Linked DNA regions of Homo sapiens. The protein of the gene in region 2 purifies or fractionates together with the protein of the main gene of each other region. This does not show direct contact. Each region holds a gene or a part of one and is shown on either strand. Other genes may lie near its edges.

Evidence for each region.
Region 1: the proteins of DRG1 (region 2) and STAU1 purify together in Homo sapiens (affinity purification with mass spectrometry; 2 studies listed by BioGRID and IntAct, with this or other methods). This does not show direct contact.
Region 3: the proteins of DRG1 (region 2) and NTMT1 purify together in Homo sapiens (affinity purification with mass spectrometry; 5 studies listed by BioGRID and IntAct, with this or other methods). This does not show direct contact.
Region 4: the proteins of DRG1 (region 2) and LARP1 purify together in Homo sapiens (affinity purification with mass spectrometry; 2 studies listed by BioGRID and IntAct, with this or other methods). This does not show direct contact.

What each region holds. Positions count from the first base shown.
Region 1 is NC_000020.11:49,122,333-49,129,352, reverse strand, and holds part of STAU1 (double-stranded RNA-binding protein Staufen homolog 1), read left to right. Parts: intron 1-4,747; coding exon of another isoform or gene 4,748-4,765; coding exon 4,766-4,978; intron 4,979-6,117; coding exon 6,118-6,261; intron 6,262-7,020. UniProt on the Homo sapiens protein: Binds double-stranded RNA (regardless of the sequence) and tubulin.
Region 2 is NC_000022.11:31,395,516-31,402,612, forward strand, and holds the start of DRG1 (developmentally-regulated GTP-binding protein 1), read left to right. Parts: upstream 1-4,088; 5' UTR 4,089-4,168; coding exon 4,169-4,210; intron 4,211-5,104; coding exon 5,105-5,228; intron 5,229-7,097. UniProt on the Homo sapiens protein: Catalyzes the conversion of GTP to GDP through hydrolysis of the gamma-phosphate bond in GTP. Appears to have an intrinsic GTPase activity that is stimulated by ZC3H15/DFRP1 binding likely by increasing the affinity for the potassium ions.
Region 3 is NC_000009.12:129,621,846-129,629,182, forward strand, and holds the start of NTMT1 (N-terminal Xaa-Pro-Lys N-methyltransferase 1), read left to right. Parts: upstream 1-4,317; 5' UTR 4,318-4,450; exon of another isoform or gene 4,451-6,870; intron 6,871-7,337. UniProt on the Homo sapiens protein: Distributive alpha-N-methyltransferase that methylates the N-terminus of target proteins containing the N-terminal motif [Ala/Gly/Pro/Ser]-Pro-Lys when the initiator Met is cleaved.
Region 4 is NC_000005.10:154,750,521-154,758,396, forward strand, and holds the start of LARP1 (la-related protein 1), read left to right. Parts: upstream 1-4,856; 5' UTR 4,857-5,237; coding exon 5,238-5,673; exon of another isoform or gene 5,674-6,002; intron 6,003-6,633; exon of another isoform or gene 6,634-6,770; intron 6,771-7,876. UniProt on the Homo sapiens protein: RNA-binding protein that regulates the translation of specific target mRNA species downstream of the mTORC1 complex, in function of growth signals and nutrient availability.

The DNA.
Region 1 (7,020 bases), on a different chromosome or scaffold from region 2:
TCGCGCCACTGCGTTCCACCCTGGGTGACAGAGTGAGACTCCGTCTCAAAAAAAAAAAAAAAAAAAAAAAAATTTTTTTTTAAAGTCATTCTAGCAGGTAGTCAGTAGTATCTTGTTGTGGTTTTAATTTATATATCTCCATGAAGACTAGCAATACTGAGCTTCTTTTCGTGTTTTTATTTTACTATTTTCTTTGATGAAATATAGGTTTATATCTTGCCAGTTTTTTTGAGTGTCTTTTTATTATTGAGTTTTGGAGGTTCTATATATATTCTGAATTCAAGTTTTTTCTCAGATAAGTATTTTGCAGATATTTTCTCTTAAGTCTGTGGCTTGTCGTTTGATTTTAAGTGACTTTCAAAAAGCAGAAGTATTGAATTTTGGTGAGGTGTAGTTTGTTAAATTTTTTATAGTTAATAATTTTTGTGTATGCTGAGATACATTTGGCTAACCTAAAGTCATTTTCCTTAGAAATTTTAGTTTTAGCTCTTACATTTAGGTTTATAATTCATTTCGAGTTAGTTTTCATATATACTGTGACATAAGGGATGTTTTTGTCTTTTTTTTTTTTTTTTTTTTGGATTTGGATGTCTAATTGTGCCTGCACTGTTTGTTGAAGAGACAGTCCTTTATTTTTTGAGACAGAGTTTTGCTCTTGTCGCCCAGGCTGGGATTACAGGCTTGAGCCACCATGCCTGGCTGAGACAGTCCTTTATTAAATAACCTTTGCACCTCCCCTCTTCACATTTTGAGAACTTCCATGCTTTCTGATACAACAAAATGTTTTAGCCTCACTTTGAACTTCCCCTGCTCTAGCTTTAGCCCCAGTGGAAACATAAATTTCTAATAGAAATGGTCTTGGCCATTCCTCCAAGAAGATCCGGTTCCTTCTAATTGGGAGTGGTGTGTAGAGACAGGACAGGGTGCTAGCATGCTTGTTCCTGCTGGAGAGCCATGGCTCTCGGTTAGGAGATAGAGCTAGGAAATATGTATATTTTGAAATAACAAGTTTATTTTATTTGATTTTAGAGAAAAGAACTCACTTGGTACCCGGGCTGTAGTGCAGTGGCATGATCTCACCTCACTGCAACCTCGACCTCCTGAGCTCAAGTGATCCTGCTGTCTCAGCCTCCCAAGTAGCTGGGGCTACAGGCACACGCCACCACACACTGGGCTAATTTTTGTATTTTTTTTTTTTCCTCTGAGACAGAGTTTCGCTCTTGTTGCCCAGGCTGGAGTGCAATGGCGTGATCTCAGCTTACCGCAACCTCTGCCTCCTGGGTTCAAGCGATTCTCCTGCCTCAGCCTCCCGAGTAGCTGGGATTATGGGCATGCGCTACCACGCCCAGGTAATTTTGTATTTTTAGTAGAGATGGGGTTTCTCCATGTTGGTCAGGCTGGTCTCAAACTCCTGGCCTCAGGTGATCCGCCTGCCTCGGCCTCCCAAAGTGCTGGGATTACAGGCGTGAGCCACCGAGCCCAGCCAATTTTTGTATTTTTTTTGTAGAGACGGGGTTTTGCCATGTTGCCCAGGCTGGTCTCAAACTCCTGGACTGAAGCCATCCACCCGCCTTGGCCTTCTCAAAGTGCTGGGATTACAAGAGTGAGCCAATGTGCCTGGCCCCTTTTTTAGTTTTTTTTGTTTTTTAGACAAAGTCTTGCTCTGTCATCCGGGCTGGAATGCAATGGCGCGATCTCAGCTCACTGCAACCTCCGCCTCTGGGGTTCAAGCATTTCTCCTGTGTTAGCCTCTTAAGTAACTGGGATTACAGTCATGTGTCACCACACTCAGCTAATTTTTGTATTTTTAGTAGAGACAGGGTTTCACCCTGTTGGCCAAGCTGGTCTCAAACTCCTGACCTCAGGTGATCCACCCGCCTCGGCCTACCACAGTGTTGGTATTACAGGCGTGAGCCACTGCACCTGGCCCCCTTTTTTACTTTTTAAATGTCTTTTGATGAGCAGTTTATTTTTTATTTTATTCATTTATTTATTTTTGAGATGGTGTTTCGCTCTTGTTGTCCAGGCTGGAGTGCAGTGGTGCCATCTCAGCTCACTGCAACCTCCGTCTCCTGGGTTCAAGCAATTCTCCTGTCTCAGCCTCCTAAGTAGCTGGGATTACAGGTGCCCGCCACCACGCCCAGCTAATTTTTTATATTTTTAGTAGAGACGGGGTTTCACTATGTTGGCCAGGCTGATCTCGAACTCCTGACCTCGTGATCTGCCCACCTCGGCCTCCCAAAGTGCTGGGATTACAGGCGTGAGCCACCGCGCCCGGCCAGTGGTTTTTAATTTTGAGGAATTTCTTTTTTCTTTATGGTGGATATCTTTTGTGTTCAACTCTTTGCCAGCCTTACAGTCTTGAGGCTTTCTCCTGTTATAAAGTCTTTGTAATTTTAGTTTAGATCACATTTAAGTGATCCTAGGTCTAATTTTTGTTGTGGTATGAGTTAGAGATCATGGTTTGATTTTTTTTTCTTCCCCCCACCCCGCTCCATGCAGATACCTAGTTAGTTGCTCTGGTACTATTTTTTTAAGAGATTTTTAATTTGTTTTGGTGTGTTTGCCAAAAATCGAGTGACCTTATATGTGCAGGTCTTTTTCGTGCTGTTCTGTTGATCTATTTATCCTTACACAAAACCATATCCTAGTTGTTGTGACTTTATAGGAAGTTTTAAAATCTGGTAGTGTAAGTCTTCTATTTTTCTTTTTGAGTGTCTTGGCTAATATCGGTTAGATTTTTAAGTTTTTTTGTTTTTTTTTTGTTTTTTTTTTTTTGCTTTTTGAGACGAGGTTTTGCTCTGTTGCCCAGGCTGGGGTGCAGTTGTGTGATCATAGCTCCCTGTAGCCTTGATCTCCTGGGCTTAAGTGATCCTCCTGTTTTAGCCTCCCACATAGCTAGGACTACATACAGGGGCACACTACCACACCTGGCTAATTTTGTTTTTATTTTTGTAGAGTCAAGGTCTTGCTGTATTGGCCAGGCTGGTCTTGAACTTCTGAGCTCAAGTGATCCTCCCACCCTGGCCTCCCAGAGCGTTGGGATTACAGGCATGAGCCACCCTGCCCAGCCTGATTTTCTATCTGTGTTATTGTAATCACTTTCTTGATAATGTCCATGATACACAAAAGTTTTAAAGTTTGATTAAGTGTGACTTTTTTTTTTCCCTCTTGTTGATTGTGCTTTTAGTTTCATATCTTAAAAACCAATTGCCAAACCCAAAGTCATGAAGACTCGCCTGTTTTTGCTTCTGAGAGTTGTGCATGTTAGCGCCTCTGTGTAGGTCTTTGGTCCATTTGGAGATTGTAATCACTTTAATATGCAGCTAACTTTCTGTTCATGTTTAATTTTAGATTCTTTCCCCATCTTTGTTGACTTAGTTTTATTTCTTTAATATGTAAAACAGTAAATGCTTCCAGAAGTCAAAACTATCATTCCCGTCTCATCCCGTCTGTCTACCCTAATCCCTCACACCTGTTGTAGGTAACTAATTTCATTGCTTGCTTTTTGAGACGGAGTCCCACTCTGTCACCCAGGCTGGAGTGGCGCAATCTCAGCTCACTGCAAGCTCCGCCTCCCAGGTTCACGCCATTCTCCTGCTTCAGCCTCCCGAGTAGCTGGGACTACAGGCGCCTGCCACCACGCCCGGCTAATTTTTTTTGTATTTTTAGTAGAGACGGGGTTTCACCATGTTAGCCAGGATGGTCTCGATCTCCTGACCTCGTGATCCACCTGCCTCGGCCTCCCAAAGTGCTGGGATTACAGGCGTGAGCCACCGCGCCTGGCCCATTGCTTGCTTTTTTTTTTTTTTTTTTTTCCTTTGAGACAGGGTCTTACTCTATCGCTTAGGCTGGAGTGCAGTTTTGTGATCTTGGATCACTGCAACCTCCGTCTCTCAGGTTCAAGGGGTTTTTGTGCCTCAGCCTCCCAAGTAGCTGGGATTACAGGTGTGCACCACCACCCCTAGCTAATTTTTGTATTTTTAGTAGAGATGGGGGTTTCACCATGTTGGCCAGGCTGGTCTTGAACTCCTGACCTCAAGTGATCCACCCGCTTTGGTCTCCCAAATTGCTGGGATTACAGGTGTGAGCCACCATGTCCAGCCCATTGATTTTTTTTATCCTTCGTTTTTTTTTTTTTTTTTTTTTTTTTTGCAAAAATGAGCTTATAAATGTGTGTCTGTTTATATATGTGTAGATATTTGTATAAAATCCTATTTTTCTTAAACTAAAGCTACCATACCATATACTCTTTTGTGGGTTTTTTTTTTTTTTTTTTTTACTTAATGTGTGCGGGGAATCCCTCTTTATCAGTGCTTAAGAGATTTGTCTCGTTCTCTTTTGTGGCCACATAGCAACCAGTATTTAGTAGGCCTAGTCCTGGCTGGAGGCTCAGAGCAGATACTAAACTTGAGCATTTGTACTGCATTTATTTCTGGACTTTGCTGGGCTAGCTTCCTTTTTGCCAGTTGCAGTGGACCACACTAAACTCAGGACAGCCTGTGAGCCAGGGGCATGGGAGTAAAAAGGTCTCCCTATTTCATGCCTGACTGTTTGGGACTCACCAGACTCAAGAGCATAAACCAGTTTGAGAAGTAAGAAGAAAGGCGAGAAAGCATTTGAAATGATCCCCGCTTCCTTTCATTTAGTAGGTCTTGTCCTTGGTTCCCCTTCCCTGTGTCTGTGTGAAGTGTGCCAGCCAGTGTGCCTTGGAGCTTTTAATAAGTGTCTGTCCGCTTTCACTCAGTCTTTCCCTCTGAAACAGGTGGCCCGGGAGAGTGGCCCACCCCACATGAAGAACTTTGTGACCAAGGTTTCGGTTGGGGAGTTTGTGGGGGAAGGTGAAGGGAAAAGCAAGAAGATTTCAAAGAAAAATGCCGCCATAGCTGTTCTTGAGGAGCTGAAGAAGTTACCGCCCCTGCCTGCAGTTGAACGAGTAAAGCCTAGAATCAAAAAGAAAACAAAACCCATAGTCAAGGTGAGAACTTTTCTGAACACAGAAGGTGTTTTCATTACTTATAGATGGGTGGGGGGTTTAGAAGGCTGGTCGCTGTCCCCAAGGTGAAAGGGGATGAGACCAACGTGCCACACCCCAGGCCTGCCAGACCCCTTAGAGGTGCTGCAAGAGCCACCTGTTAGGTAAGATAAGGACATTGTGTCAGTTCAGTAGAGGTACCCGCAGACGGGCACACACATCTGTGCAGGAGGGCGCTCATCACAGCCCTGGCGATCACAGTGGGGTATTGGGCAGGAACGCCATGCCGGTCTGTGGGGCGCGTGGTGAAATAACAGTGCCTGTGTCTCAGTGACCATGTTGCTGTTCTGAAGGTGGAGGAGATTTGTGCCAGGCAGGAGGCCCATAGTGGGAGGGTAGGAGTGAGACATTTTGCTGTGTGCCTTTTCTTTTGGATTTTTGAGCCACACTAATGGATCTATCAAAGCATTATATTGACCCCTTCCCCAACCCCAGAAAGGGGACATAATTCCATGGGGAACTTTGTGATTTTCAGTATATGTAGTTTCATGCTGTATCAAGATCCAAATTTTTCTTACATAAAAGCATACTATGTATACCTTTTGTTTCCCTTTTTTGCTTAATATAGCCTGGAAGTCACTTCTGATCAGCAGAGTGAGGGTTCCTTGGCACAAAAGGTGGCCTCAAGGAAGTAACTGGGATTCTGAGGTTCTTCTTGCCATGTGGCATCAGCTTGAGCTTTTTTAAAAAAGTGGTTCCTGGATTTTGAGTTCTTTTCAAGAAAATTGGGAACCCATCATAGCTCAGACTTTTGGGGAGTTGTAGGAATAGTGTTTTATGTTTTTTCTGCCCATTTACTGTCATATGTTGAAATATGTTAAAAAACAGCCGTCGCAGTCATAGTGACGCTTCGTTATAGTGAAATGTTGATGTTGGTTTGCTAAGACCTTAAAATCACCTAGAACAATCATAAAAAAAATAAAGCATCTTTTCATTGTTAAAATGTTAAATTAAAAAAAATCGAATTCTGAGCCATTAGGTCAACCCAAAATCTCTTATCTCCTCTCATATCCTGATCTCTGAGTTGACCAAGTTCATGCGGTGAATAACATTACAGAGTTTCTGCCTTGTTTGTTCCTCAGCCACAGACAAGCCCAGAATATGGCCAGGGGATCAATCCGATTAGCCGACTGGCCCAGATCCAGCAGGCAAAAAAGGAGAAGGAGCCAGAGTACACGCTCCTCACAGAGCGAGGCCTCCCGCGCCGCAGGGAGTTTGTGATGCAGGTGGGTCCGCATGGATGATGGGCGCCCCTTCCTCTGACCACGTCCAGCCTTGGGGGCTGATGGCGGTTCAAGGTCTGGACACCTTCCTGAGGAGGCTGGATCCTGTGGGCCATGTTCTGCCAGCGACTGTGATCCTTATTTATTTATTTATTTATTTATTTATTTATTTATTTTTGAGATGGAGTCTCACTCTGTCGCCCAGGCTGGAGTGCAGTGGTGCTGTCTCAGCTCACTACAACCTCCGACTCCCTGATTGAAGCGATTCTCCTGCCTCAGCCTCCCGAGTAGCTGGGATTACAGGCACGTGCCACCATGCCCAGCTAATTTTTTGTATTTTTAGCAGAGACGGAGTTTCGCCATGTTGGCCAGGATGGTTTTGATCTCCTGACCTTGTGATCCTCCCACCTCAGCCTCCCAAAGTGCTGGGATTACAGGCGTGAGCCACCTCGCCCAGCCAACTGTGATCCTTATTAAGACCTTGTGGCTTGCAATAATTTGATAGCTTAAACATACCACAGAAATCTGTAAAGGCTACATATCAAAGATTAAGTTGTTTATCTTAATGCTTAAAAAAATGAATGTAATGTCTGCACACCAGCACTACTGCTGGGTGCACTGGTGGGAATGTGGGTGTGTTGCACTGAAATTTGGAAGAAAGAGTCCTGGGGTGGTGGGTGCTGGGAGAAGTTTTTCTTCATTACATCTCCTTGAAGGTTTATGACATTGCTCTTTACCAAAGGTAAATTTTGTAAGTAGTAT
Region 2 (7,097 bases):
GCACCACTGCACTCCAGTCTGGGTGACACAGTAAGACCCTGTCTCATAATAAATAAATAAATAAATAACATGGATTTTTCTTGTATCATTATCCTGTTACTTCTTCCATCAACCTGACTCAATTATTAAGGTGTCTATAATAACATATACAGACTACTTAGAAAAAAAATTAAATACTTTTTCTTTCTCTTTATGTTATTTTATTCTAAAATTTTTGTTGATATTTAATAGTTGTACATATTTGGGGGCTACATGTGGTATTTTGATACATGTATACAATGTGTCATAAAATCAGAGTAACTGGGATATACATCACTTCAAACATCTTTTCTGCTTCTTGAAAAAAAACAATTTCTCTCTTAAAATTTCCATTTTTAAAATATCTTTCAAGAGGTTGTTGTAGCTGCACATCTGCTGGTGCTGGAGATAGATATAGTATCACTCCTTCCTCATGGGATCATGTCTTTTTTGTTTTGTTTTTTTCTTCTTTGTCTGTTTTGTTTTTTTGAGACAGGGTCCCACTCTGTCACCCAGGCTGAAGTGCAGTGGCATGATCACAGCTTACTGCAGCCTCGTCTTCTTGGGCCCACCTCAGCCTCCCGAGTAGCTGAGATTATACCACCACACTGATTTTTTGTAGAGACGGGGTTTCGTCATGTTGCCCCCTGTACCCAGCTAATTTTTTTTATTTTCGTAGAGATGAGGTATTGCTGTGTTACCCAGGCTGGTCCCAAACTCCTGGGCTTAAGCGATCCTTCTGCCTTGGCCTCCCAAAGTGCTGGGAGTGAGCCAGGCGTGAGCCACCAAACCTGGCCAGGGATCATGGTTTAATGGGAGTCAAGAGAAGTAAAACAGTGCCCGAGAAAGCCTATGTATTTGACCACATATAATTGTTCTGGAATGGTGGGAGTGTCTCATCAAGAGATGAAGCTTTTCTGTCAATCTTTGTTTTACTTATTTATTATTTATTTTAGAGGTAGTTTCTCGCTCTTTCACCCAGGCTGGAGTGCAGTGGTGGGATCATAGCCCAGTGTAACGTCAAAGTCCTGGGCTCCAGTGAACCTCCTGCCTGAGCCTTCCCAGTAGCTAGGACTACAGGTGCGGGCCAACAAGCCTGAATAATTTTTTTTTTTTTTTTTGAGACAGGGTCTTGCTGTTACCCAAGCTGGAGTGCAGTGATCTGATCATGGCTTACTGTGGCCTTGACCTCCTGGGCTCAAGTGATCCTCCTGCCTCAGCCTCACACATAGCTCAGACTACAGGTATGTGCTACCACGTCTGGCTAATTTTTAAATTTTTTGCAGACCGGCTAATTTTTTTTTTTTTGTAGAGATGGGGCGTCTCCCTATGTTGCCCAGGCAGGTCTTGAACTCCTGGCTTCAATGCCCAGGCTGGTCTTGAACTCCTGGCCTCAAGCGATCCTCCCACCTCAACCTCTGAAAGCACTGGGATTAAACTGTGAGCCACTGTCCCCGGCCTATTTATTTTTTACACATTTAATACCAAGGTGCTAGTGCTTTATTCATATGACCAAATGGGCTCTCCTTGCTGCAGTTGGTACTTAACAGACATGGGGTAGCTATGGCTCTTAGGAGCTGAACCTAAGGTCCTGGCCTTGGCCTCCCAGCCTGGATACTTCTTTTTTTTTCTTCCTTGAGATAGAGTCTCGCTCTTGTCGTCCTGGCTCCAGGCTGTAGTGCAATGGCATGATCTCGGCTCACTACAACCTCTGCCTCCCGGGTTCAAGCGATTCTCCTGCTCAGCCTCCTGAGTAGCTGGGATTACAGGCGCCCGCCACCACGCCCGGCTAATTTTAGTATTTTTAATAGAGACGGGGTTTCACCATGCTGGCCAGGCTGGTCTCGAACTCCTGACCTCAGGTGATCCACCTGCCTCGGCCTCCCAAAGTGCTGGGATTACAGGGGTGAGCCACTGTGCCCAGCCCCAGCCTGGATACTTTTTTTTTTTGAGACTGAGTCTCCCTCTGTCGCCAGGCTGGAGTGCAGTGGCACATTCTTGGTTCACTGCAACCTCCGCCTCCCGGGTTCAAGGGATTTTCCTGCCTCAGCTTCCTGAGTAGCTGGGACTACAGGTGCATGCCATCATGCCTGGCTAATTTTTTGTATTTTTAGTAGACACCGGGTTTCACCGTATTAGCCAGGATGGTCTCGATCTCCTGACCTCGTGATCTGCCACCCACCTCGGCCTCCCAAAGTGCTGGGATTACAGGCATGAGCCACCGCGCCCGGCCTAAATACTTGTTATGTGCAGGAACATATCTGATTCACTCTCTACTCTGTCCCCAGTGTTGTCACAGTGCCAGGCAGCAGTTGGAGCTCTGTAAATAACGATTGCATGAACAGGATGGCCACCCAGGACTCGGGAAAATGAGTATTACTCTTTGGTGCCTATTGACAGTTCAGGGCCCCAAGGTGGGTCCCAGGGTGTCTTTGAGCAGTAAGTGTTAACTTATCTGCAGGCCTCATATAATAGATTTGCTAAGGAGCACCTACTCACAGAGCAGTGATGCCCTTGATATTGTCAGCCAATTAATTCCTTAAGTACTTCAAGTTAGGATAGGCCTGCTGATTTGATTTTATCTGTCTTTTAAGATTGATCTTTGATCATGTCCCATTCCAGCTGGACCTCCTCATCTTCCCTCCTCCATTGCTAATAGTGTGGGATCTAATTACCTCATCATCCCTTAATTTATTTATGAAAAAGGCTGAGGTTAAAGAAAAGAAAGAAGAAACTCTCTTTGGCCCTTTGGGGACCTTCTGTAAAAGCTTTCCCTTCTGTTTCTCCCTCTTTATGCACAAGAAAACCTCCCTTTTTTGTCTCTGGGAAGTTAGAATAGTTCTTGTTTACAAATTTAACTAAATTAAACTTCCCTCCCAGGGCTGGGTGGAGGCCAGCCCTGTGGGTTAAGCCTGGCCTGTCGACTGTGGGTTAAGCCTGGCCTGTCGACTCCCGCTGGAATAATCAATCTATCAAAACAACCCATTGATCCTGAGGCAAACCGCTTTCAAAACCACCACATAGTTCCTGGACGTCCTGGCTTCCTCATGACACTTGGGGAAGAGGAGTCTTTTGAAATTTTAAATTTTATTATTACACAAGTAATACATGGATACATTCGTCTTGTAAAAATTTAACTTCAAAATTCTGTGGAATAAAATGTGAAAGGCCTTTTCTTTGCATCCCATCCCACAGTTAAGAGCTTCTGATGTATTTTTCTGTTTAGGCCTTTAAACTGCACGTTCATACACGTACACCTATATAAATGTACATTTAATTTTAAAAATAACATAAATGGTATCACTACGTAGGTGCCCTTCTGCTAGTTGTTTTCCCATTTAACATGTCCTGGGTAGCCAGTCAGACCACAGATCTACGTTTTAACGGCTGTAATCATATTTCAAAAACAGGATAGAGGCATTATTCATTTATCCATTTTCCTACTGATGGGTGTTAATATAGATTTCAATTTTTTGGTATTACAAACTATGTTGCAAGCAGCAGTTCTCTGGGAATTATCCATTCAAGTATGCACTTATTTTGGGCTCCCCATGTGCTCTACTCGGGGTTCGGAGTAAACAAAACCGACCTAAAAATAATTTTGAATGATAGAAAGGGGGCATTTTCTTTATCCAAGGGGGTGAGGCAGGCTGAAGATGGGTCTCTACTCCCTCCAAGACCATGGAGGGCGTCGGGGTGTCACCCCAGCTGTGAAAAAGGGACCCAGGACCCGCAGATGCTGGCGAGGAACAGGGGTGCGGAGCATGAGTCGGCTTTGCACCACGCCCTGGGGTCTCCAGCACTGAAGCGTTCAGTACCATGCAGAGCAGCTGGGAGCGGGTCCCGCTGGGCGGGGCCGAGCTGCGCGCGACCCTCGGCGCGCTCGGGGAGGCCCAGACAGGGGTGGCCTCTCTGGCCTCCGCTCCCGCGGGCTCTATGACACCGCACTGGCTCGCGGGACGGGGCGGGGTCGGGTGAGGGGGAGGAGACAGCCCCACGCTTTGCGACTCGCGGTGACCCCTACGCGGAACTCTCTCGCGGTAATTCGAAGTACCGCGCCTGCGTGCTGCAGTAGCGCCTGGTGGCGGTGGCAGTTTGCCCGCGGGTGTGTGAAGGGAGACAGTGTGGAGGCCACAGGGTACTCGCCACGATGAGCAGCACCTTAGCTAAGATCGCGGAGATAGAAGCAGAGGTAATGGACGCAGCTGGCGGTTCACTCTTAGTCTGAGCATTCCTTCTTTGGTGGCGTCGCTCCTTCCTGTTCTCCTTTGAGCCGCGTCAGGACCGGGCCTAGATTCCGCGACTTCTCTCAGCGAGGCCCGTGTTCCGACTGCCCTCTGCCACGATTAGGAGTCCCCGACTCTCCTCAGTCAGGGCCCCCTTTCCCCTCGTCCCGCGTCTACGCTCTCGGACTCCCCTTTGCCCGGGCCCGCGTTCCGCACCCCTGCACCTTAGGCCCTTAGTCCGTTCCCCCTCCCAGTGTTTGGCTCCTGTTCTGATGTTGTTTCTTTCCGTTTTGCTCTGAGAAACACTGAATCCTGTCCCTTATTCCATCTCTGACTTGGTCAGATAGTTCAGGATCTTTCCTCATCATCCTTCGCTGCGTCCCCCTTATTCCCCCTTTTCCCAGTGTCTACCCTAATGACCCCCTGATTCAGAGTATTTGCTCCCGGTAATCGGATCTGGAAGTAAAATGACATCTGTGTGGGAGCAGTTTATTCCGCCTGGATAGTGTGTGATTCCATTGCGTGCGGCCCTGAGAGCGCTTTACAATTAGGAAAGTGGTGTCCCAGTGTTAGATGGATCCAAACAGCTGCAAATAGTAGAAAAGGAACCCGCAGACGGGTTTCAGTCTAGTCTGGGGGCACTAATTGGAATGACCTTAATCGTCTTTCCTCTTTGGGCTTTGCTTTGCTTTGTAGTGAGGGAAATGAGCTGGATGGAGGAGATAATGGACTTTTACTCTTTTAAAGCCTGTAAACTGGGTGTGCTAACATTAGTAGGACTTGGGGAAAAAAATTATCCTCTCAAAGCTGGGGGAAGCGTTCACTGCTTCTAATTTATGGCTGTGATTCCTCCCTTTTAGATGGCTCGGACTCAAAAGAACAAGGCCACAGCACACCACTTAGGGCTGCTTAAGGCTCGTCTTGCTAAGCTTCGTCGAGAACTCATTACTCCAAAGGGTGGTGGTGGTGGAGGTCCAGGAGAAGGTTTGTGTTCTTCTTCAATATATATATTTTTAGGTATAATTTTTGTCAAAATAGTACATACATGTGGTTTAAAAATAACTAAAGATGGCCCAGTGCAGTGGCTCAACGCCTGCAATCCTAGCATGCTGGGAGGCTGAGATAGGAGGATCACTTGAGGCCAGGAGTTCAAGACCAGCCTGATCAACATAGACCCCCATCTCAAAAAAAAAAAAAAGTTTTTTAAAAACAGAAAAATAACTAAAGATGTTCTACTAAAGTAGATTTATATTTTCTAAGCATGAATTCTTGAACTGTGTTTATTTTTATTCTGCCGGTTTCAGAGGCAAATGAATATTGTCTAAGTGTACTGTAGTTTTATTTATATCCTGCACTGATACAAAATAGATTTACATGCGCTGGGTGCAGTGGCTCACCCTTGTAATTCCAGCACTTTGGGAGGCTGAGGCGGGAGGATTGCTTGAGGCCAGGAGTTCGGAACCAGCAAAGCCCTGTCTCTATGGGCTTAGAAATGAGGGGTCCCCATAGGTATGAAAGAAGATGTACCAAAAAAAAAAAAAGGCTGGGTGCGGTGGCTCACGCCTGTAATCCTAGCACTTTGGGAGGCCAAGGCGTGGATCACGAGATCAGGAGTTCAAGACCAGCTTGGCCAGCATGGTGAAACCCCATCTCTACTAAAAATACAAAAATTAGCTGGGCATGGTGGCGCATGCCTGTAATCCCAGCTATTTGAGAGGCTGAGGCAGGAGAATTGCTTGAATCGGGACCCAGGAGGCAGAGGTAGCAGTGAGTGAGATTGTACCACTGCACTCCAGCCTGGGCTACAGAGCTAGACTCTGTCTCAAAAAAAAAAAAAAAAAAAAAAAGTATCCTAGCATGGTGGTGCATGTTTGTGGTCTCAGCTACTTGGGAGGCTGAGTTGGGAGGACTGCTTGAACCCAGGAGGTTGAGGCTGCAGTGAGTTGTGATGGCACCACTGCACTCCATCCTGGGTGATAGAGCGAGATCTCATCTTAAGAAAACCAAAGTAGGGCCAGGCGCGGTGGCTCACTCCTGTAATCCCAGCACTTCGGGAGGCCGAAGTGGGCAGATCACAGGTCAGGAGTTCGAGACTAGCCTGACCAACATGGTGAAACCCCGTCTCTGCTAAAAATACAAAAATTAGCTGGGCATGGTAGCACGAACCTGTAATCCCAGCTACTCAGGAGGCCGAGGCAGGAGAATCGCTTGAACCTGGGAGGTGGAAGTTGCAGTGAGCCGAGATCATGCCACTGTACCCCAGCCTGGGTGACAGAGCTAGACTCTGTCTCAAGAAAAAAAAAGAAAAAACAAAACCAAAGTAGATTTATATTGGCTTACAGAAATGTAAACCTATATCATCAACAAGATTAAAAATAAGTAAAAAAATTGATGCAAAGGGAAAACGTAGGAAAAATAAGTCGAAGCCAAGCGAGATAAGATTTAGGACTAAAAGGAATGGCGTAAGATCTGTGCACCTGGTAGAGAAGGGCCACAGATTTGACTCTGAACTTGTTGGCAGCCATTGTAAAAAGAAAAAAGAAAAAAAGAAAACCCAGTCAGTCATACAATTTACAGAATTTGAAAGACAAAAAAACAAAAACAAAACTCTTTTTAATTAATTAATTTGTTTATTTTAGTTATAAAAGGGCAGCTCCTCCATAGGCAGAGCAGGGCTACACCATAGGTAGAGTAGCTAACAACTCTATTTTTGGATCATTTTTCATACATATATTTGGGCTGTACCTTTTTTTTTTTTTTTTTTTTCGAGACAGGGTCTTGCTCTGTTGCCCAGGCTGGAGTACAGTGGTGTGATCACAGCTCACTGCAGCCTCAACCTCCTGGGCTCAAGCG
Region 3 (7,337 bases), on a different chromosome or scaffold from region 2:
TGGGGCCCTAGAAGGTCCTGTGAGTTTAGAGCTCTCTACAGGCAGGCTGTAGAGCCCATCATCCCTGCCTGGTGCCTCTCCCAGCCCCTCCCGGCTGCCTCTGGGCCGCTTCAGGGTCATTGTGATCCGCCCCTCACCCCTGGGCATCTGAGTAGCAGTGGGCACTGAGGCCTGGGGACTAAGGGTGGGGCTATTGTGCCCTGGATGCCCTGGCCGCAGCCACCTGGGGCACTGGGACTCTGACCAGGGCAGCCAGGCCTACCCTTTCCAGATCTGGGAGGCTTAGGCTGGGTGGCTCTGGAAGTAGAACTTCCACCCCAAGACCAGGCAGTCAGAATACAATGGACCTAGAAATGAACAGACCCTGCGGGGCACGGTGTCTCACGCCTGTAATCCCAGCACTTTGGGAGGCCGAGGCGGGCGGATCACCTGAGGTCAGAAGTTCAATACCAGCCTGGCCAACATGGTGAAACCTCGTCTCTACAAAAAATACCAAAATTTGCCATGCATGGTGTTGTGCACCTATAATCCCAGCTACTTGGGAGGCTGAGACAGGAGAATCGCTTGACCCTGGGAGGCGGAGGTTGCAGTGAGCTGAGATCATGCCACTGCACTCCAGCCTGGGTGACAAAGCGAGACTCCATCTCAAAAATAATAATAATAATAATCCAAGGTCTGGGTGCTAGGTGTGCTTCTTGCTATTGAGATGTCATTTCTTTCAGGCAGTCTCAGCTGACAAAGAAATGTGTGTGTATACTATGAAACACACACATATCTATAAATATTTCTATAGGTAACCATCTGTACTTATATTAAGCTAAACATGAGCTCATGCTGACATCTCCAACTCTAATCCGTTACACAGATCATTTGAGACTCTGTCTCACAAAAAAAAAAGAGGCCAGGTTCCAGTGGCTCATACCTGTAATCCTAACACTTTGGGAGACCGAGGCAGGTGGATTGCCTGAGCTCAGGAGTTCGCAATCAGCCTGGGCCACATGGTGAAACCCCGTCTCTACTAAAATACAAAAAAATTAGCCGGGCGTGACAGCGTGTGCCTGTAGTCCCAGCTACTTGGGGGGCTGAGGTAGGAGAATTGCTTGAACCCGGGAGGCGGAGGTTGCAGTGAGCCGAGATCACGCCACTGCACTCCAGCCTGGGCAACAGAGTGAGACTCCATCTCCATAAAAAAAAAAAGAAAGAAAGAGCCGGGCACGGTGGCTCACGCCTGTAATCCCAGCACTTTGAGAGGACAAGGCGGGTGGATCATGAGGTCAGGAGATCGAGACCATCCTGGCTAACACGGTGAAACCCTGTCTCTACTAAAAATACAAAAAATTAGCTGGTTGTGGTGACGGGTACCTGTAATCCCAGCTACGCGGGAGGCTGAGGCAGGAGAATGGCGTGAACCCAGGAGGCGGAGCTTGCAGTGAGCGGAGATCGCGCCACTGCACTCCAGCCTGGGCGACAGAGCAAGATTCCATCTCAAAAAAAAAAAAAGAAGGAAGGAAGGAAGGAAGGAAGAAAAGAAATTAACAGACCCACTTTCAAGTCCATGGTCTGCTGTTTTGCTGTGTGATCCTGGAGAAGTGTCTTCTTTCTCAGGACTCCCTGGGCCTTATCTCTGAGTCTTGGCTGGGAGAGGGCCGAGAGGAAGCTCATAGTATTGTGAAGCTGGGGTGGGAGACAGAGGTCATTTACATGAGTATTTCACTGGCGTGGCATAGTTTCATAATTTGAAAATGAAGAAACGACTTTGTAATTCAAATAACAGAGTGACTCACTAGAGAACGCGTCGCCAAAGATATATTCTATTTTCTGTCAATGCTTCTCACCAGGGATGGAGGGACATACTTTCCTGGAGAGCTACAATATTGAGTGGGGGAGGGAGATATTTTTGTATTTATTTAAAGGGTATGTGTCTTTTTTAATGGCTGCGAAACACCAGATTAACTAGACGGTTTCTTTTTTTCTTTTCTTTTCTTTTTTTTTTTTTTGGAGACGGAGTCGCGATCTCAGCTCACTGCAAGCTCCGCATCCTGGGTTCACCCCATTCTCCTGCCTCAGCCTCCCGAGTAGCTGGGATTACAGGTGCCCACCACCACGCCCGGCTAATTTTTTTGTATTTTTAGTAGAGACGGGGTTTCACCGTGTTAGCCAGGATGGTCTCGATCTCCTGCCCTTGTGATCCACCTGCCTCGGCCTCCCAAAGTGCTGAGATTACAGGCGTGAGCCACTGCGCCTGGCCTAACTAGATGGTTTCTAAGGAGCCCTCCAGCCCTTGCACTCTGCAAATATTTATCAAGGAACTACTATGTGCTAGGCTTGGGAATTCAGAGATGCCAGAGGCTTTGAGGTCAGGGAGCCGGCCAGTCCTGGGAAGGCCTTGGAGCGTGGCTGTGGGGAAGGGGCTTGCTCTTCTGTTGACAGGAAATAAGACAGGGCTGGATTTTTAGGCATACAGAGAGCTTGGATCAGAGCTGCCCCCTGGCGGAGGATTCCGGACACCCCCACCGATTGAAATTGCCCAGGATCAATCCCTTTGCTTAAAGACACAGAAAATGAAGCTTGGGAGAGGGGCTCAGACCAGGGGTAGCAGTTGTGACCTAGAATAGTCTAGAGGGTATGCCAAATAAGATGCACATACACACATCCTGCGGACTCAATGCAGAAGGGGCTTTTTAGCATCCCCTTTCTACCGTAGCTTTCAACACATTTAGAGCAAACACACTTTAAGCACCTTCTGTGTGCGTCGCCCAGAGGAAGGAACACCAGGATAGTATTATTATTATTTTATTTTTGAGACAGAGTTTCGTTCTTGTCACCCAGGCTGGAAAGCAATGGCGCGATCTAGGCTCATTGCAACTTCTGCCTCCTAGGTTCAGGCTATTCTCCTGCCTCAGCCTCAGAGTAGCTGGGACTACAGGCATGCACCACCATCCCTGGCTAATTTTGTATTTTTAGTAGAGACGGGGTTTTGCCATGTTGGCCAGGCTGGTCTCAAATTCCTGACCTCAGGTGATCCGCCTGCCTTGGCCTCCCAAAATGCTGGGATTAGAGTCGTGCACCACCGTGCCCTGCCAACACAAGGATATTATTAATAGTATAGGAAAAATGAACTTAAGATGGATATTGTCATTATAACAGCTTCCATTTCCTGAGAACCCACTGCAGGTGCTGAGCTGAAGGTCTGACGTGCAATGTCCCACAAGTTTAACCCTCTCAGAGCATCAGAAGTTGAGTAATTATTACGTTGCTCAACTTCCTCTTCTGACAGGAGACTGAAGCTCGGAAATGTTAACAGGCTCTACCCACCTGCAAGCTCCCGTTTCCATCACCGCTGCCTCGGAGATAGCTCCAGAATTTCTTTGCATGGGAGGAGCCTAGGGAAGGGCCACGCTTTTGGAATGGAAACGTCATGGGCTTGTTTTGCTCATTTCAGTGGGAATCCCATGGCACTGCCGAGAGTATTTCTTTTTATTTTATTTATTTTGGGGGGTCGGTATTATTTTAAGATGCTAATGGAGATGGGTGGATTTGAGGACCAATGGCTTTTTTTTCCCTTTTTACTCAAAGCCCGCACAACACACTCGTTTTTAGAAGTCCAGCCTGCAGCCTCCAAACGAACTGTTGTACGTGCTGGGGACGGGGAGAGGGCGACGCTGCGGCTCTTTTCCGTTCGGGAGGTCCTTCTAGATTCCCAAAAGTCAATTTAGTCAAGTTTTGAGCTGTAACCTGTGTTGGGCGCGGTGGCTCACGCATGTAATCCCAGCAGTCTGGAAGGCCGAGGTGGAAGCCTCGCTTGAGGCCAGGAGTTCAAGATCAGCCTGAGCAACAGGGTGAGACCCCGTCTCTAATTTTTTTTTTTTAAAGAAGTCAAATTAGGCCAGGTGCGGTGGCTCACGCCTATAATCCCAACACTTCGGAAGGCAGAGGCGGGCGGATCACTTGAAGTCAGGAGTTCGAGACCAGCCTGGCCAACATGGTGAAAACCCGTCTCTACTAAAAATACAAAAATTAGCTGGGTGTGGTAGCTCACGCCTGTAGTCCCAGGTACTCTGGAGGCTGACGCAGGAGAATCGCTGGAACCTGGGAGGCAGAGGTTGCGGTGAGCCGAGATCGCGCCACTGCACTCCAGCCTGCTTGACAGAGCAAGATTCTATCTCAAAAAAAAAAAAAAAAAAATTTAAATTATTTTTCAAAAGAAGTTAAGTTAAATCCGGAGCCCGCGCGGGGGAGGGGCGAGCTGAGCGAGGGGGTGGAGCCAGCCATGGGCCCGCCCCTAAACGCCCGGAAGTGACGTTGGCGGACAAAGGCAGCGCGCGCCGCGAGCTGTCGCGTCTGGTCGTGGTCTGGCGGAGCTGCGGTTGGCTTGTGGCGTCTCCGCCGCCGCCGCCCTCCCTTCCTCTTCCCCATCTTCTTCTCTCGGTCCCGGGAGCCCCCGCCCGGAGTGAGTAGCGCGAGGCGGTGCGAAGGGTAGGCAGCCGCTGGGAGAGGGGAGGCTGCGACCCCTAACTGTTTCGGCGCCCTGAGGTCCCGGGTCCCCGGCTCGTCACGTGACCCGGCGCGTGCGCGCGGGCCGGCACAGGCCTCACGTGCGCGTCCCCAAGAGGTCTACGGGCCGGACCTGGGCAGGGACTACGGAGCAGTCCATGGGTCGGGGTACAGGAGGAAAGTCAAGGCACTCAAAGCCCAGGCAGGGCACTCCCCCACCCCGGTCCCCAGACCGCAGCAAATCCCTTTCTCTGAGCCTGTTTCCCTTCCGAGAAACAGGGATATGGAGAGCGCCCACTTGGAGGATGGATGGGAGGAATCGGTAAAATCGGTAAAATGCCCAGTTCAGAGCCTGGCACAGTTAAGTGCCCGCTGCACAGAAGTTGCTGTCGTATTTAACCTTGGGTGCCACCCGAGCGCCAGCCCGACACAGGTGCAGCTCAAAAAAGACAGCCCGAGAGCCCTTGCGGCCAAGGTCAGCCTGTCTGCAGGGAGGCTGCCATATCGAAAAGCCCAGACTTTGCTGCGCACCAACTGTGTGATCTCTCCCTCTGGACTTTGGTTTCTCCTCTGTACTATAAGTGATTGCCACAACTGGTGTCAGAGGCCCTGACAGCGGGGAGGGACAGTGTAACCGGTGGTTGTGGTGTGTAGAATGATTGCCCAGTGAGATGGGATGAGCCTCTGGGAGGAACCAGGGCTGGTATAAGGAGCCTGGATTCCCTCCTTAATTCTGTTCTCGGCTTCCTGTTTGTATGTTTAAAGACACGTCACTTCCTTTAGTGTGCTGGTTTTTCTCTATGTAAACTGAGGACTGTGCGGGGGTTGGAAGGATGCATGGAGCGTTTTGGTGGAGGCCGGAAGCCCTAGGATCACAAGGATGGCATCTAAAAAATCTCGGTGGGGGTTCTGTGCTTATAGGCAGAGGAAGCTCACTCCCCACTCTGGCTGATTTGCAGAGCTGTTTGAGTCTGCTGGCTTGGCCGCCCAGCATACCAGTAACAGTCCCCTAGGTGTGTCCAATACAGCTTCTGTGGCATTCTAAGGCAGTTTTCCCATTTGATCCTCATAGTGGGCAGAGTTGACAAGAATCTCATTTGACAGAGATTTCTAAGCTCAAGAGAGAATATGTGCCCGGCACTGTGCAAAGCACTTTAAGCTTTTCATATGCACTTTTAATCACAGCCTTTCTGTAAAGTCGGTATTACTGTTCCATTTTATAGGTGAACTGAGGAATGGTGAGGTTTAATGTCTTGTCTGTGCTTACACAGCAGGTGTGCAGAGCCAAGATTCAGATCTGGTTCATCTGGCTCCATCAGAGCCTTTGTTAGTTTTTAAATGTATCCCCTGTTTTGTCTTCTTCCCTCCCTTTCTCACTTCCTTCTTTTTCTTAGAGCACTCTGCCGTTTGCATGTGGCCTGCTGCTGTCCACAAAGATCCAGGGAGGATGGACTCTGTCCACTAGGCTGCTAGAGGGTGGAGGTAACTTTTAGGCAGGCTTTTCCGTAGAGACTTACGTGAGGAGGATGAGATGACTGCAAAAGTCTGCCGGTGACAGTTTCAGCACTGTTTTCTTCCATGGGTCGTGGGAGAAGAGATGCAGTACCTTGGGTCTGAACACCTTGGCGGGGAGGAGGAGGCAGCAGCCAGGTGACTGTGAAGGATGTAGGATCACATTTACTGGCTGAGCAGCCATTTACCAGGCATGAGGGGTTTGTCTTCCTCTCTGAGCTAGCCTAGAGTGCACACAAAGCCCGTGTGCTCCTGGCCCCCTCCCAGGCCCTTCAGCCACATACGGCATCTGTGCTCTGGAGCAGAGTGTAGCAGGACCACCTGCTGTTGGCTGACTGACCTTGCTGTTCCCTCAGACTCTTAGGGACCTCCTCCTGCCCCACTCCAATCTGGACACCACGAGGCAAAATGTAGCCAGGACCCCAGGAATCCCGTTTATTAATGAATCAGCTGTTAGGGCAGATGTCAAAGTCAGGCTTGCTATTTCCCGGCCAGGATGTGCCTCCCCTGGCTTGTTCCCAGAATTTGCGTGTAAGTGGAATTCTTGTAAATTAGATTATTCAGGGGACCCTGACATTTAAAGGAATCATGTTACAAGGCTTTTGGTAAAGCACAGAATTATATTGTCGGTAGCAGCCTTCAGGCCTTCAGTATTTACCAGTTCTGAATGGTTGGACTTTTGTCTGTAGGATTTTCTTAGAGTGGAAAATGGCTATAGCTGCACAAAGCCCATTCTTGCATTATTTGGCAACCAGTTAGTCAATGCCCACCTGGTATCAGGCACTGGGCTAATGGTGTACAAGGTAATGTCTCTACCCCCAGGAAGCTGCATGCTGGGAGAGGAGACGGATGGAGTCCAGCCTGGTATGTGTTTGCCCCCAGATTTATTCTGTTCATTTGATCAGAGGTGAACTTTCTGTTGAATATTTGTGTTTCATGGGATGCAAGAGAAGCATGGTGATAAATCTCAAATGTTGCCACTGCTCTCAGGAGCTCCCCGGCCAGGCGAGAGAGAGAACTGAATACAAAACCTTCAGTTTGCCAAGTTGGGCGGTGAGAGGGAGACAGGCTTGCTCTCGCCATGGTCCAGTCTGAATGGGAGTTGTGCCAGCATGGTGTGGAAGAGTAGTAGTTCGTTTTTTAACCTTTGTCTTTAATTTTCCCAGCCACCAAGTGTTTTTTGTTTTTTGAGACAGGGTCTCGCTCTGTTGTCCAGGCTGGACTCAAACTCCTGGGCTCAAGCAGTCTTCCCACCTCAGCCTCCCAAAGGGCTCAGGTTATAGGTTATAGGTTATAGAGTAGTTTTGAATGCCGTCCTCTCTTGAGTGACT
Region 4 (7,876 bases), on a different chromosome or scaffold from region 2:
CTCGGCCTCCCAAAGTGTTGGGATTACAGGTGTGAGCCACCATGCCCAGCCCAAATAGGTATTTGGACCCATTTTATTAATTTGGTGAGTTTTATTTTTTGAGACAAGGTCTCGTCTCACTTTGTTGCCCAGGCTAGGGTGCAGTGATGCAATCACAGCTCACTGCAGCCTCCACCTCCCAGGCTCAAGCAATCCTTCCACCTCAGCCTCCTGAGTAGCTGGGACTACAGGAATGTGCCACCACACCTGGCTAATTTATTTATTTATTTATTTGTAGAGACAGGGTCTCACTGTGTTGCCCAGGTGGGTCTCAAATTCCCGGGCTCAAGCAATTCTCCCACCTTGGCCTCCCAAAGTGCCGGGATTACAGGTGTGAGCCATAGCACCTGGCCTAGTGTTTAAGCACATGATGTGTTTAAACTCTAGGCACAAGTTAGCCTGATCCTTGTCACTTTCTGCCTAAAGCATATTTTGTCTCTTTTTTTGGCCTCTCTTTTTTTTTGGCCACAGGTTAAATATTGCTCAATTATTTGGTTCCTCTAATTAGAGTTTACCCTTTAGAAAGATAGGATTCAACTTGTTTGGTATCTTCCTGAGGCCTAAGTATTTGAGGGATTCTCCATAAATACTTATGGATATGGCAATGGAGGGAAGAGAAGTAGGCTGTACAGAGTGGTGCAGTGAGTAAGAATAAGGCCTGGCGATATAGAACACCCTGAAAAACCCCACTCTGATAGTTAGCTGCTGCCTATGATGCTGAGTACCCACCTTACTTTCTTTTCTGAATTTCAATTGCCTTCCTTTGTAATTTGAAGACAATAACCATTCCAGGACCTAGCCTGTAGTGCCTGGCACATAGTAGGGGCTCAGTAGACATTTAAGGAAATAATAACTATCCCACTGGGTTATTATGAAGATTAAATGAGATAATGAATATCAAGTATTTCCCATAGAACCTAGCGTACACTAGTTACCCAATAAAAGTAGCTACTCCTGACTATTTGGTCATTACTCCTGACTATTTGGTCATTACTAAATGGTCATTACTGACTATTTGGTCATTACTAGTCCCCTCTTATCTGTGGTTTTGCTTCCTGATGTTTCAGTTACCTGTGGCCAACTGTGGTCAGAAAATATTACATACAATAAGATGTTTTGAGAGAGAAAGAGCACAGTCACATAAATTTTATTACTGTCTATGGTTATAATTGTTCTATTTTATTATTTATTGTTGTTTATCTCTTACTGTGCCTAATTTATATATTAAACTTTATTATAGGTAAGTATATATAGGAAAAACATAGTATATATAGAGTTTGGTACTATTTGGGGTTTCAGGCATGCACTGGGATAAGGGAGGATGACTGTATTTAGAAATATATGCATATAAAATACCATAGTTGGTTAGGAATCAAAAAAACCTGAATTCAAATCCCAATTCCATCATTTTTTTATTAAAACTTAAAAAAAATAGAGACAGGGTCTCACTGTGTTGTCCAGGCTGATCTCTAACTCCTAGGTTCAAGTGATCCTCCTGCTTTGGCCTTTCAAAGTGTTAGGATTACAGGTGTGAGTCACTATGCCCAGCCCCAGTTTCATTATTTTAATGTAGAAAAAACTACTGGATTTAGGATAAAGAGATTCAGGTATGAGACCTAGCTCTGTCTGGCTCTGCTGTGTGACTTTGGATAAGGAACTTTACTTTTCTTTTTCTTCCTTTTTCTTTTCTTTTCTTTTTTTGAGATGGAGTTTTGCTCTGTCACCTAGGATGGAGTGCAGTGGGGTGATCTCGGCTTACTGCAACCTCCGCCACCTGGGTTCAAGCAATTTTCATGCCTCAGCCTCCTGAGTAGCTTGGATTACAGGTGTGCGCCACCATGCCCAGCTAATTTTTGTATTTTTAGTACAGACAGTGTTTCGCCATGTTGGCCAGGCTGGTCTTGAACTCATGACCTCAGGTGATCTGCCTGCCTCAGCCTCCCAAAGTGCCGGGATTACAGGTTTGAGCCACTGTGCCCGGCCTTGGACTTCACTTTTCTGAACTTTGGTTTCTTCATCTGCAAAACAAGGAGAATGAGTAATCATTATGATTCCTTTTTCCAGTTCTAACAGCTTCTAAGCCTAAGATGTTGTCTCGGCCGGGCATGGTGGCTAACACTTGTAATCCCAGCACTTTGGGAAGCTGAGGTGGGCAGATCACCTGAGGTCAGGAGTTTGAGACTAGCCTGGCCATTATGGTGAAACCCCATCACTACTAAAAATACAAAAATTAGCTGGGCATGGTGGCGGGCGCCTGTAATTCCAGCTACTCAGGAGGCTGAGGCAGAAGAATTGCTTGAACCCGGGAGGCGGAGGTTGCAGTGAGCTGAGATCCCACCACTGCACTCCAGCCTGGGCGACAGAGTAAGAGTCAAAAAAAAAAAGATGTTGTTTCACACAGGTCTCTTACTTTCTCTGGCCCTAGTTTGTCTCTCTCTGGGGCAGAGCAGGCCCAGGGTAGGCAGATCTCAGTACCCCTCCACCCTCTACACAGCAGGGCCTGGCCATGCTTGTTCAACCCTGTTTCTGACTGCTGAGTAGCATGAACGAGTTTCTTGTCCACACAGTGCCCTCGTACCCTCACGAGTTCTCAGGGGTCAGGGGAGGGTACTTCTCTACCTCCAATTACAAAAAGAACAACTAACAATAATAATTATGTCCCCTATTAACAAAGTTTAGAGAGGGTCTAGAGTGAATAATCTCTTCAGGGATTACTTATCAATAAATTTGTAAAAATAAAGCTGTGCATGGTGGCACGTGCCAGTGGTCCTAGCTACTTCGAAGGCTGAGGTAGGAGGATGGCTTGAGCCCAGGAGTTTGAAGCTGCAGTGAGCCATGATCACAATGACTGCACTCCAGCCTGGGTGACAGACCTCATCTCTTCAAATAAATAAATAGTGCATTTCAGTGGCAATGTGCAATAATTTACCTTCTGATTAAGAGTACATGTAATGAACTTAGTAGATTCCTGGTTTAATTCATTGAGTAACATTACCTTCCTTGGTAGCTCTTTTGACGTACTGGCTTGTCTATAAAATTTACACAGCACCTTGACTAACATTGTCTCACTTGACCTTCACATGAGCTCAGAGGGTGGAAGCAAGTCAGGCATTATTTACCCCCATTTTTCCACCAGGAGAGGGGTCCAGGGAAGTGCGGCTAGCTGGCCAAGGCTTGGAGGCTGAATAACCCAAGAGTTGGAAGTAGACATGGCATTACCTGGCTATCCCTACCAGTACTTCTCCCCCATACTGGTTACAACAATCCTACAGCTCAGCTTTGCTGGCTGGGGCAGTTCCAAGAGGCTTTTCATTCAGTCTTCTCCTAGATCCAGCAGGTCGTGTGCTCTAATTCTTGTTTTGGAGATGGCCAACATTCCAGGCTGTTATGTTATGTGAGCACGTGGGATCACAGCCAGTCAGAAGCCAGGACTTCTCCAAGTGAAGTCATAAGCACCAAAGGGATCTTGCTAGACACGCAGATTTCTGGGTCCAGTCCCAGACCGAGCCTGATTCCTAATACTTTGGCATCTGCGTTCAAAGAAGTCTTCCCTTATCACCCAAACAAAAGTAGCCCATCTAGTCTAACTGATTACCACAGTTTAACTATTGTCTTCATAGATACTAGACAATAATTTATTACTTGTTTATTGTCTCTTTCCCCACCTTAGAATAAATTCCATGAGGATAGGGACTTTGTTAGCCTAGTTTATACCAAACCCGTTTCCTAGAACCCTGCAAGGCCCCCACAGTACGAGGTCAGTAAGTATTGAATCGAATGTACACTGAAGTTTGAAACTGCTGTCATACACTGCTCCTTCATTTTACAATAGAGAAACTGAGGCCCACGAAGCTGGAAGTCACTGCTGCAGAGATGGTAAGGGGGCAGGGCCAGGATAAAATCTCAGATCTCAGAAGTCCCAATCCAGGGACGGTTCAACTCCGCCCAAAGCAATTCTTTAGAAAAAAAACGACATCCACTTGAAAGAAAAGACATTTCCTGCCCATAAATACAAGGTTTCGCGGCGGGGAGAAGGGCCTGGCCTGGGTGAGGGCTTTAGTAATTCCGTTCCCACTTCCTAGGCGCCGGCTGCCCGCAAGGGCTAAAGACTCGCTTTCCAGGCCCGGAGTTGAACCCATCTCCGGGTAGTGTCGAGGCCAGGCCCAGCGGCGGCGAGGCGCGGAGCACAACCCACTGAGGTGCGGACGGCTCACCCAACCAAGGTCACCCGGGCGGGGACCGAAGGGGCCAGGCCCGCCGGGCACAGGGGAGGGGGCGGCGTTGGCGCGTCCTCGGGGCGGATGAGGGTCCTCCCTTCGGCCTCCTAGAAGTCAGGAATGACACTAATGGCTCCTTCCCCTGAATCTGACACCCAGCCTAAAGAGCACGAGCAGGCCCGGCAGGCCGCGTGGCCGGGTCCCATGTGCTCCACCTGAGGCCGCTCTCACGCGCTGGCCCTTTAAGATACCTCCCCTCCTCGCCCAGCCTTCTCTCCTATCCCCGTCAGCGCCCCCACCGACAACTCCCGAATTGCATCAGGCACGTGCTCGCCCCCGTCCGGTCTGAGCGTCCCTACCCCCAGCCCGGGAGGTGCTCTGAGGAATCGGAGACGAGGGGCGGGGCGAGGGGCAGGACCGCGTAGCCGTGCGCGCGCCGTCCCGCCGCCTCCTGCCCGCCCGTCGCCCAGGGCCCGGCCAGCGGCGCGCCCCCGCTGCGCCGTCCCCTCCCCTCGCCCGCCGCGTCGTGAGGCGCGCGCCCGCCCGCCGCCTGCCGCGGATCGCGTGGTCTGCTTGGCTCGCCGCGCCTCTCCCCCGTCCGTCCATATTGCTGCAGCCCCCGAGCCGGGAAGCCCGGGCCGCCCCGGGGGCGGGGGGGAGGGAGGGACGGGACTAGAAGCCTGCCGGGCTCGGGGTGGGGGCGTCTTGCGAGGAACGGGCGGGGGGGGACGCACGCCTAGGAGGCCTGGACTGCAGAGTGGGGGGCCTTCCTCCCCCCCCGCCCCGCTAGTGGGCCTCGGATTTACGGCGGCTGCATCTAACTGGGAGGGGGCCGCACCTCGCGTGAACCCCGACCCTTCTCTGCAGGGACTGGGGCCCAGCGCCCCGGAGGAAGGCGTCGCGGGCGCTCTGCTAGCCAAGTTCGAGGCGGGGGAGGCAGCCTCGGGCGCGCCCGGCTTCTCCGGGGGGGCGGGCGCGCAGATGGCCACTCAGGTGGAGCCGCTGCTGCCTGGGGGCGCCACGCTCTTGCAGGCCGAAGAGCACGGGGGGCTGGTGAGGAAGAAGCCGCCGCCGGCGCCCGAGGGCAAGGGCGAGCCCGGGCCAAACGACGTCCGCGGGGGGGAGCCGGACGGCAGCGCTCGGAGACCCCGGCCGCCCTGCGCCAAGCCGCACAAGGAGGGCACCGGGCAGCAGGAGCGCGAGAGCCCGCGGCCGCTGCAGCTGCCCGGCGCCGAAGGCCCGGCCATCAGCGACGGGGAGGAGGGCGGCGGCGAGCCAGGCGCTGGCGGAGGAGCTGCCGGAGCCGCGGGCGCGGGGCGCCGGGACTTCGTGGAAGCCCCCCCGCCCAAGGTGAACCCGTGGACTAAGAACGCATTGCCGCCGGTCCTGACCACCGTGAACGGACAGTCCCCCCCAGGTGGGTCTCCCTCCTTGCCCTCCTGGGTCCGGGGGCCTCTTCCGGGGACATGGGAGTCCCCTCCCCCAGCACCTCCAGGGCCCCGGGGTCTGCTACCGGTCATGGTGACTCGGGACTTTTTAAAATTGCCTCCTGGTTGATCCTGGTCGCCGCGCCCTCCCCCCCACCGTACACTCAGGGACCTGCCCCTGCCCGAGGGCCCGGCCTCCGGGAGGCTACGGCCACCGCCTGGGCCGCAGCGGTTAGTGGGCAACGGTGTGGTTCGGGCCTACCTCGTCGGCAGAGGGTGGGCGCTGGTTTCAGTGAAACGATCCCCACCGCATGCTGGTGTAAGAGACGGTTTCTGGTTTGAACCTTCCTCTGGAAGCCCCTCTTCCCACCCCGCCCGGCGCTCCCCGTTTTGGTAGCGTTGCGAGCGTCCCCATGTTGTAAATGTTTAATGAGCATATGTCACGGGCAACCCAGTGCCCGGCGCGGAGTACATGCTGGCCGCACGGATGCGGGGATTAAAAGTTAACAAGTTTTGTTCTCGGGGAGATGAAATTGGGCTTTAGAATCGCCATTTGGAGACGGGTTGAGGGGTCAGTTGTGGGGAGAAGAAACCCATCGTGTCATCGAATTCGGTGGTTTCCCTCCCCGATCCCGGGCACCTTCCGCCTTAAGAAGGAGCCCGATGGCGAGTGTGCTGGGGGAGCCAGTTAGGAGGTTGGCGGAAAATGTGAGGCGGGTGAGGGGCCTGCGGCGACTTGAGGGGCGTGTGGCGGCGGGGGAGGGAGTGGCCGGCCTGGGCGGGCGGGTGACAGTTGGGCGCCATGCGCCGCGCCGGCGGCCCGCGGGCCGCTCGGCCTCGGCGTTCGGTGCGGGCCGCGGCGCTGGGGGTGGCAGGAGGGTGCGGGCCCGCGGCGCGGCCCGAGTGTGCGTGTGCGCGGCGCGGGTGTGTGCGCGTCCCCCCTTCCCAGCATTCCTCTGCAGCCGGGACAACGTGGTGCCTCCCCGCGCGGGGAGCGGCATGTGACTGCCGACCGGCGCTCCGCGAGTCCTCCCTCTCCCTCCTCCGCGTTTTGGTCCTTTTGGACCGTGCCCCTTTCCGGGGGGAGGTAAGGGGTGCAGGAAATCCCAGCAGAGCCGTGTCAGCGTGGGGGGAGAGGCGGTGCAGAATATGGAGTCTGCTCTTGCATTGCCTTTGCCGAGAATAGATCGTCGGCTTGGGTGGGGGGGGCGCGCCCACTCTCCTCTCTCGGCCGGCGTATAGGGCGGGTCTCCATTCTTTGGTTTTGGGTCCGTTTGTGGTGGGTCGGTTTTAAAATTGTCTTGCAGTTGGAATGATGGCCTCTGGTCGTAGCCCTGGTGCTTTTAAAAAACTCACCTGCCGTAGCTGGTTGAGGCTAACTGGTTTAAACCATCAAAAATAAAGGGGGAGCTTAATGTCTTCACCGTCAAAGGAGTAGAAGCACTGCTAGTCCTAGGGAAGCCAGAATAGCCAGTCCTGAAAACAGCATGTTGCAATTTTTATTTCTTTTCAGGTTGCTTCATTTGGAGGAGGGGACATTTGGGGTTTACTAACAGTCCTTCATACTGTGTTCTCTTCCTTCCCCCCTGCTCCCCTTCCCCCCTGCTCCCCTTCCCCCCTGCTCCCCTTCCCCCCTGCTCCCCTTCCCCCCTGCTCCCCTTCCCCCCTCCTCCCCTTCCCCCTTCCTCCCCTTCCCCCCTCCTCCCCTTCCCCCCTTTCCCTTCCAGAGCCCTTTTATGCAAAAGACAGTGCTGAAACCTCCGTTTTCTTTCAGTCCCTCCTATCCACCCACAGAGTGAAGGAAAACAACTTTAAAACACTCTTTGGTCCTTCTCCCCTCTTTAAACTCAAAAGGGTATAATCATCCCCGGGAGAGAGCACTCCTTTTAAATGGGGCTACTCATCCTGGCTTGGCTAATGGTGAACCTACCTTGTGGGTTTTAAATCAACCGTGACATCAGGTGGTATTGGGTGCCTGAGCTGGCATTTTGTGTAAGTCCAGGAGCCCTTGATAGTGTGCGTCACTGGGGTTATTGATCGTGGGAAGAAGACAGCTTGGCTGGCATCTCACCTTTTCCTCTGAGTGGAGAAGCTGACTTGCTTTAAGTGCCCAAAGCAAAATTCTGAGTAAGGGTAGATTTGCTCTGTTATTGTTTTTTGGAATCTTAAGGCAAGAGAGTGTCTACTTGTTGG